Homo sapiens: one gene and its partner. The protein of the gene in region 1 interacts with the protein of each later gene in a pairwise test. Each region holds a gene or a part of one and is shown on either strand. Other genes may lie near its edges.

Region 1 (5,723 bases):
AGTCTGACCCAACTGGGATTGTCCTGTTTAGTTTTTTATTGTACCTATATGCTGTATTTACATAGAGAAGCCAGTCAGATAAGCAATCAGCTGTTTAATCTACTTGATGGTTTTTCGCTAGATCTTCTTCAGCTATTAGAATGAAAATACGAGTAGCATCTATTGCTTGTTGCATCTGAAAAACTTCTAGAGACGAAGCTGCATGAGAATCCCTTATTATTTGCTTTCACCTTAAAGTTTTCCCTAAGTACAGAGTGAAAAGGAACCTGGTCAGTGAGAGAATCTTATGCTTTTTCAAAAAGAAGAATATCACAGTGAGGGCAGTGGACTCTGCACCCAAAGGCCAATTCTTGTCGTGCTCTGCCACCTAAGACCCAAAAGATCAAATGACTTCACCTCTTCAAACCTCAGTTTCCACATGTGTATAACAGACATAATAATAACAGTATTCACAAGGATAGCCTAGGAAATAAGAAAGAACATTCATGAAAATCACTCAGCATAGTTCCAAGCACATAGGAAGTGTCTGACAAATACTAGCACTTCTATTGCACAACTTCTTTTGAAGTGAAACCTTCAGCACTTTGAGATAAATATTTAGCTACAGTTGTATATGCAGAAAGTATTTATAATAAACCAATAATTTCACTGAGGAAATTTAAAGTCATCTCTCCTAGCATTCGCTTTCCATGTAATCATACTTAATACCTGCAACCTGAACCTATGAAGCATGCACAGGTCACTGAGGAGCAATGTGGGCTGGGAACTTTACTGCCTCAACATATGAAAGAATCCATTTTTTATTGACTTTGAAGATTATTTTAAAGCTGGGTTAATTTTATATTTATGCATTCTGAACTGGAGATAAACCTTTCAAGCCCCAGGCCTCACCCTGAAGCACATTCTGTGAAAACAACTTCTTCCAGAAGAGATGATCTGAATCAACAGCCAGCCAGTCTCAAATCACTGTACTCTCAGAGAAAACTATTTCACAAGAAATGTTTTTCTCTGATCACAGCAACACTTTGAAGACTTCCAACATCAACAGAGATGGAGGGGAAAATGTGTCTTTCTGAAATGCCAATTTTTCTAAAGCAACCACCCCCAAAACCCTTTAGTCACTTCAAATGGTTTCAAGTGCATACTGAATCAGCCACACTGAAATGAGAGATTGTGATAAATGAACAGAATAATAGAATAATATTTCAGGATAGAAATCTTTAATGAAACTCAAATGTCAAGGCCTTCCAGAGACCATTATTATCACATATATCTGAATGTATGACTGCATCTATTGTTAATGCTACTCCACTTAAACATAGTATGTGTTATTTGTTTTTAACCAATTTAAGAGAAAACTGAATGCGGGGCACCAACATTGAACATTTCATGGAGAAGTCGCCATCTTCTGAAGGTACTAGATTCAACAGCCACTGTTCTTTGAACGACAGGTGCACTCCAATTGGTCTAAGACATTTATTCCAATCTTCACTGCCTCAAAAACCAAATTATCCACTAAAAGTTCAGCTTTAAAACTGCTTCTTTATTAATGCATTCAAAGGGCTAATTTCCAGGGTTTGCAGTTTAGGGCTACTTAACTTTCAGGAGTTCCCAAGTTCTAATAGATTTATTTTCACTTGCATTTCATGTGTCATCATGTTAAAAGAGAAATACAACACATAAAAGTCAGTATGCTCTATCCATTAACCCATCTATGGACATTTATGTGGTTTCCCTGTCTTGGCTTAATGAACATGGGAGTGCAGGTATCTCTTCAAGATACTGACTTCAATTTCTTTCAATCTATATCCAGAAGTGGAAATCAACAAGACATGGAAACACAAGTATTGTATGAACTCACTTATATGTGGAATCTAAAACAATCAAACTCTTAGAAGCAGAGAGAAGAATGGCAGCTGCCAAGAGCTGGCAGGAAGCAGAAATGGGGATGTAATGGTTAAAGGGTACAAAATTTCAGTTATGCAAGATAAATAAGTCCTCGAGGTCTCCTATACAGCACAGTACCTATAGTTAACAATACTGCATTGTACACTTTAAAATGCTAAGATGGTAGATCTTATGTTAAGCGTTCTGACCCAGTAAAATATTTTAACAACAAAGGACATGGGAGGAAACTTTGGGAGGTGACAGATATTTTATGACCTTGATAAAATGGTTCTTTATAAAAGTTAGTGCTCTCACTTTCTTTTATTATCAATAACAAGAGTCAGAATAACACAATTCCAAATGGTACTAATCAAATTAAAAAGTCAAAAGCAAATTGTACTTAAACAGTCCATATATGTATACAGAGACAGATATAGACAGAGAGGACTCTCCACCTTTCATGTACTGCAGCCTTGTTTTTGCCTCATTTCTCTTCTACCCCATTATATAATGTTCTATCTAAAACCAATGCTCCCTCTTCCTTACCAACCTCTCATTCATAAACCAACTCTCACTCTGTCATGACTCTTTAATCGATCTTTTCAATTTTTTTGAGGAAGAGAGTAGGAAGAACATTCACTCCCTGGTAACACCGACGTCAACGGTCCTGAAGCCATCCCCAGCCTAAAGGAGCCTCAGCCTTGGCCGTTGTCGGCCCTCATCACCTCAAGAGAGTTTCTGAGCCACACAGATTTAAACATACTAAAGAATTACAGATTAGAGAGCTCACAACCACAGGGAAAGTGCTGCCTATCACTTAAGACACTGAGAAAATACATATAAAAATCTCTACAAGCAATTAAAAATAACACATTTTAAGAAAGGGAAGAAAGAGTCTCCCCAGAGAGAAGATCCTTGATTTGCACTGTCCAGGATGGCAGCCACCAGGCCCACATGGCCACCAAGCACTCGAAATTTGGCTTGTCCAATCTGAGATGTGCTGGAAGTGCAGAATACACACTGCAAGGCAAAGACTCAGTATGAAAATAAGGAGAGAAATCTCATCAATAACTTTTTACCTTGACTACATGCTAAAATGATAGTATTTTGCACGTATTGGGTTAAATACACTATTTGAATTAATTTCTTAATTTCACCTGTTTCTTTTGACTTTTTTTTTTTTTTACCATGGCTACTAGAAAGTTTAATATGTGGATCACATCATGTTCCCACTGGACAGGGCTGGCCTAGCGCTGCCCTTCACACGCACCTTCAGGACCTCGGCATTCTCGGGTTATAGCGCTGATCTCAATTACATGTAAAGACGAATGCAGGTACATATGAAACAGTGGTTCTCAAAGTATCCTCCCAGAATAAAAGTTTAAGTTGTCAGCAACTACCCCAGACCTACTGAATCAGCAACACAGGGGTGGAACGCAGCAATCTGTGCTTCAACAAGCCTTCCAGGGGATCTGACACATGCTCAAGTCTGAAAACCATGGCTGTCTTCGTCTGTTTTGTGCTGTTATAACAGAATACCTGAGACTGGATGATATATAAAGAACAGAAATGTATTTTCTCACAGTTCTGGAGGCTGGAAGTCCAAGATCAAGACATTTGGCATTTGGTGAGGGCATTATTCATTCGTCCTCATGTAGCAGAAGGCAGAAGGACAAGCAAGCCAACAAGAAAATGCTGTGTGAAGCCTCTTTCTTAAGGGCCTTAATCCATTAACAAGGGAAGGACCCTCATGGCCTAAACACCTCTTAAAGGTCCCATGTCTTAATACATCACATTGGCAACACCTGAATGTCAGAGGGGACCCATTCAGGTGGGTCCTGAAGAAAGGACAGAGAAGAAAATCTCCAACAAATGTTCCCAGTCATTGAAAATCTATAACAAATGTTCCCAATCATTTGAAGTGATTGTCAAACATAACCATGCTGTGGCCCTACGGCAACCTGGACTTTAGGGAAACAGCCCCTTCGATTCCATATGGAGCATGAAGACCCCTGAGAAAGACTTGCTGCTTCATGAATGGGGTCAGACTTCCTCAATTGTCCAGGGCCAGATGTGCTTCCAGATCCCACAGGCTGAGCACATGCCAGGCACTAACTCGGGCTGTCAGGATGTAAAGAGTCCTACTTTCCAACCCACAGGAAACATGGAATGCAGAGGGAATGAAGAGGAGGAAAGACAGAAGAAAAGAACATTTAAAGCAGTTTTCAATATTCTAGAAGACGTATCATGTATCCACAGGGTGAAAAAACAACAAACACATTCATATTCCTTCATTTCACTGGTGTTATTTTAAGTTGAAAGAGACAGGAAAAAACAGACATTTAATATGAAAATGTAGATAAGCTAAGAAATAGATAAGTAGGGAGGGAATGCAGAAAAAGGAGGAAGAAAAGGGCAGGAAAAGGACAGCAAAACTTAATTATCAACCCATTTCTGTATGTGTACATACGTATTTGCACAGATGGCACTATACCATAATACCCTGTTCTATCAATTCTAAGATTAATATGTATTCACATTTTAATGACTCTGTGAAATCAGAATATGTCTTAAAATTTCTGTTGTTAGATTTGGTAATGTTTTGGTATTTGTATTCTGTTCTTGGAATCTCATTTCTAAACACGACAATCCAGCTGATTGGCTTCCGAATGCTTAGACGGTTGTTTATATTACAGTTATTTAATGGTTAAAATGTCCATAATCAATGAGTGGATAAAAACACTGTCGTGTGTGTGTGTGTATACACACACACACACACACACACACACCGGATCCCCACTTTGGGGACTCAGGGGGAAAGGGTGGGAAGGGGGTGAGGGATAAAAGACTACAAGTTGGGTTCAGTGTATACTGCTTGGGTGATGGGTCCACCAAAATCTCACAAATCACCACTAAAGAACTTACTCGTGTAACCAAATACCACCTGTTCCCTAAACACCTATGGAAATAAAAAAATTTTAATAAAGTTATGTAATGGTTAGAGGTAATTTTTAAAAAAGAAATATATACTCATTCAGATCCGTTCAATTGTGTTTTTTCTCCCTACATAAGGCATGCTAACCAGGAATAATATGAAAAATTCAGCTAAGAAGGGGCTTCCAATTTTAGAATTCCTATTCTAGAATTCCTATTAATAGTACTCAGGACAATGTATGATGGGCTTAACAGTCCACACTACACTTCAGCTGAAGTCTACACCTCCCTGAATCACAGCTACTATGCATTTAATAGGAAACCATTATGATTTAGAACTTCAATGTTGCTAGTGCCAATACTATTATCCTATGGCAGGTGATGCATGTCAAGATACCAATTCTTTCCACAATAATATTCAGCAGCTTAATTACATACATAAACCTTATGGTATAGAAGAAAACACTGCTCTTTAATTTAATGCAAAATTTTTAATTTCTCAATATAATCAGCTATGTGGAAACTACCTGCCATTCATTGTTCCTTTTGCTATGTTATATGTCAAGCATCTCTCTCCTCCCCTTCTCAATTCTTGAGGCTTCTCAATTTTTCTTGGTCTAACTCCTAGAATCACATTCTCTTCTTTTGATTCCTCTCACTTTTGCTGCCTTCTTTGGACCTTTTCCATTTTTACTCTGCTTCCTGTGAAATTCTATGAGCAGCACCAAGTAAAACATTCAAGGACAGACTGACTTATATTCCCCTAAGATTATAATTTTTTCTAAATCACTCTAAATTGCATTTTAATATACGTAAATGTGTGTCTGTGTGTGTCTACATTTTAACTCTGCTGCCCTCTGAACAGATGCTATGATGGAGCTCTGTGCTAATAGCACCTAAAT
Region 2 (3,966 bases), on another chromosome or scaffold:
CAAGGTCATGTGTAGTCAACGAACACACACGCACACACACAGAGAGAGTATTTAGGGACTTCCCAGGTGGCCAGGGAGTTGAATTGCAGGAGAAACGGTGGCAGGAAACAGTGCATTTCTTTTTTTTTTTTTTTTTTTTTCTGAAACGGAGTCTTGCTCTGTTGCCCAGGCTCGAGTGCAGTAGCGCAATCTTGGCTCACTGCAACCTCCACCTCCCGGGTTCAAGTAGTTCTCCTGCCTCAGCCTCCCAAGTAGCTGAGATTACAGGAATGCACCACCATGCCTGGCTAATTTTGTATTTTTAGTAGAGATGGGGTTTCATCATGTTGGCCAGGCTGGTCTCAAAATTCTGACCTCAGATGATCCACCCACCTCAGCCTCCCAAAGTGCTGGGATTACAGGTGTGAGACACTGTGCCTGGTCTAGAGTGCCTTTCATGAAGGCCTCATAGAAACCATCTCCCCCTCCATGGATAAAAGAACTTCCTGGCTGGGTGTGATGCCTCGTGCCTGTAATCCCAACACTTTGGGAGGCCGAGCGGGGAGGATTGCTTGAGCCCAGGAGTTCGAGGCTGCAGTGAGCTATGATCGTGCCACTGCAGTCCAGCCTGGGCCACAGAGACTTCACCGGAAAATAACTTCATCCCATTTTTGAAAAATATGCAGCCTTCTGGATCTCTCATCCATTTTCCTGTCTTGATATGGACAGGAATTTGAGTAACATACAAAGACCAAGGGAGAAGGGACAGAGGTAGAGACAAAGACAGAGTCAGAGACCGAGGAGAAGAGAGAGAAATCCCTTCCCACCAAGGAGAGACTCCTTGAGTGCTGAGACCCAGCGACCCCAGGGCAAACCAGAGAGGGTGTTATGTTAGATGCCGTCTCTAGCAGTCACTGAGATCAACTAGAAACATGCCAGGGAGGTGGCCGTCATCCCAGACATCAGGATGGCTGTGGCTGTGTTTCAGTGGTCTGCGAAGATGCAGGGCTTGTGTAGCTTACTTGGCCTCTTGTCTCCCTAGCTCGCCCTCCCCTACCTGCGGAAGAGTCAAGGGAATGTCATCAACATCTCCAGCCTGGTGGGGGCAATCGGCCAGGCCCAGGCAGTTCCCTATGTGGCCACCAAGGTATGGCAGCCCCTACCCCTTCCTTCCCTCCCTACTCCTTCCCATGGGCCTTGGCTTTGAGTCCAGACAACTTAGGAGCCAGACCTAGCAAGATCTTGGCCCTAGAAAGTCTCACACCTAACTCCCAGATGCAGCACCCAGGCATAACTGCCTGTGACAGATTTCTGTTTTTTCTTTTCTTTTCTTTTTTTTTTTTTAAAGATGGAGTCTCGCTCTGTCACCAGGCTGGAGTTCAGTGGTGCAATCTCAGCTGCAACCTCTGCCTCCTGGGTTCAAGGGATTCTCCTGACTCAGCCTCCCGAGTAGCTGGGACTACAGGCGCATGCCACCGCACCCAGCTAATTTTTTTTGTATTTTTTAGTAGAGACGGGGTTTCACCATGTTAGCCAGGATGGTCTCGATCTTCTGACTTCATGATCTGCCTGCCTTGGCCTCCCAAAGTGCTGGGATTACAGGCATGAGCCACCGCACCCAGCAGATTTCTGTTTTTTCTTTTCTTTCTTTCTTTTTTTTTGAGATGGAGTTTCGCTCTTATTGCCCAGGTTGGAGTGCAATGGTGTGATCTTGGCTCACTGCAACCTCCGCCTCCCGGGTTCAAGTGATTCTCCTGCCTCAGCCTCCCAAGTAGCTGAGATTACAGGTGGCTGTCACCACGCCCAGCTAGATTTTTGTATTTTTTAGTAGAGACGAGATTTCACCATGTTGGTCAGGCTGGTCTCGAACTCCCGACCTCAGGTGATCCACCCACCTCGGCCTCCCAAAGTGCTGGGATTACAGGCATGAGCCACTGTGCCCGGCTAACTTTCTTTTTTTCTTTTCTTTTCTTTTCTTCTTTTTTTTTTTAGATAGGGTCTCACTCTGTCACCCAGGTTGCAGTGTGGTGGCATGATCTCAGCTCACTGCAACCCCTGCCTCATGGGTTCAAGCGATTCTCACGCCTCAGCCTCCCCAGTAGCTGGGATTACAGGCGTGCACCACCATGTCCGGTTAATTTTTGTATTTTTAGCAGAGATGGGGTTTTGCCATGTTGGCCAGGCTGGTCTCGAACTCCTGGCCCAAGTGATCCACCCATCCCGGCCTCCCAAAGTGCTGGGATTACAGGTGTGAGCCACTGCACCTGGCCTTCCTGTGACAGATTTCTATGCCAAGTTTCTCCCAAGAAACCAAGCCTGGTGCCTCTGAAGGCAGCCTTCAAGGAGGGCATGACTTCCCCATTCTGATGCCCCCCTGGCTGGCAGGAGACAATGGATGGCAGGGACCCCATGTCCCGGGGACTGAACTTTCTTCCCCGCTCCATTTCCTGCAGGGGGCAGTAACAGCCATGACCAAAGCTTTGGCCCTGGATGAAAGTCCATATGGTGTCCGAGTCAACTGGTGAGCTGCTCTGAGCAGGCGGAGAGCCTCCTGGGGGGACTGGGGTGACTGGGAGTGATCCCAAGTGGTTCGAGACAGATTGCTTTGATCCCCCCTCTCCCTTCCTCTAGTATCTCCCCAGGAAACATCTGGACCCCGCTGTGGGAGGAGCTGGCAGCCTTAATGCCAGACCCTAGGGCCACAATCCGAGAGGGCATGCTGGCCCAGGTAGAAGTGGGGTTCAGATCCAGGTGGTAGAAGGTGGCATGGGGGTGGGGGGCATGGCGATCAAGTGGGGCTCCTCTTGACCTCCTTCCCCCCTCTTTTCTCCCCAGCCACTGGGCCGCATGGGCCAGCCCGCTGAGGTCGGGGCTGCGGCAGTGTTCCTGGCCTCCGAAGCCAACTTCTGCACGGGCATTGAACTGCTCGTGACGGGGGGTGCAGAGCTGGGGTACGGGTGCAAGGCCAGTCGGAGCACCCCCGTGGACGCCCCCGATATCCCTTCCTGATTTCTCTCATTTCTACTTGGGGCCCCCTTCCTAGGACTCTCCCACCCCAAACTCCAACCTGTATCAGATGCAGCCCCCAAGCCCTTAGACTCTAAGCCCAGTTAGCAAGGTGCCGGGTCACCCTGCAGGTTCCCATAAAAACGATTTGCAGCCAGAAGGAGGAGGATATCGTTATATTTATTTCCCATCCTTTAGACGAGTCCTTCTGCCCCACTTAGCCCTTGCACCCCAGACCCACAAGTTGCCTCGACCCTGAAGGACTGCAGCTCCCCCCGCCCCCCAACCCCAGGCCTTGCAGCAAGCAGGTGCCTGATGTTGCTAGCCCTGTCGCTGTCGCCAGGGGCTCCTGGGAAGGGTAGAGCGGTTTGGCTTCACCAGCGCGCTAACTAAAGGCCCGCAGGGGAGAGTAAATTAAGCGCTAATTAGGAGGTAATGGAGGGGGAGACGCAGAAGGCCCTCTTACTCTTGGCCCTCAGGGAAAAGGAGTTTTCCTCTCACTGCCTGTAGAATAGGAAGGTGGCTGGCAAGAAAAGTCCAAAGGGAAGAGAAAGTAGGGGGTTGAGACATCTGGATCAGAGGGAGGAGGGGCTGAAACTCCTGGGTTTTGGTCCGCAGGGCACTGGGGGACGCAGACTCCCCAGCTGGACCCAGGGGGGGGGCAGGGCCCGGGTGCGCTGGCGTCCCCCAGGTGAGGGGTGGAGCTGCAGGGCTGCTGCGGATTGGCTGTGGCCGGGGGGGCGTGTGCACCAACCGCTGATTGGCCGCGGCGGGGGCGGGAGCTGTCAGTGGGCCCCGACCCTACAGCCCGGGGCTGGCGGGTGGGGCAGGAGGACTGGGGCGGAGCGCAGAAAAACAGGGCGACGCCCTGTGAGGGAAGGGTCCCGCGGTTTGGCTGTTTGGGCCTGTGGCTGTTAGGGGTGGCAGGATAGTGACCCGGGGACAGGACTTGGGGGCACTGTGGGGGTAGAATTTGGAGAC

Evidence for each region.
Region 2: the proteins of CA8 (region 1) and HSD17B14 interact in binary tests that used the Homo sapiens proteins (3 or more experiments, as listed by UniProt).

The regions. Positions count from the first base shown.
Region 1 is NC_000008.11:60,210,709-60,216,431, forward strand, and holds part of CA8 (carbonic anhydrase-related protein), read right to left. Parts: intron 1-5,723. UniProt on the Homo sapiens protein: Does not have a carbonic anhydrase catalytic activity.
Region 2 is NC_000019.10:48,812,197-48,816,162, reverse strand, and holds the end of HSD17B14 (L-fucose dehydrogenase), read left to right. Parts: intron 1-1,021; coding exon 1,022-1,126; intron 1,127-2,432; coding exon 2,433-2,500; intron 2,501-2,610; coding exon 2,611-2,707; intron 2,708-2,814; coding exon 2,815-2,988; 3' UTR 2,989-3,145; downstream 3,146-3,966. UniProt on the Homo sapiens protein: Catalyzes the NAD(+)-dependent oxidation of L-fucose, yielding L-fucono-1,5-lactone, which rapidly converts spontaneously to L-fucone-1,4-lactone. Can also act on D-arabinose and L-galactose, with lower catalytic efficiency. Does not use NADPH.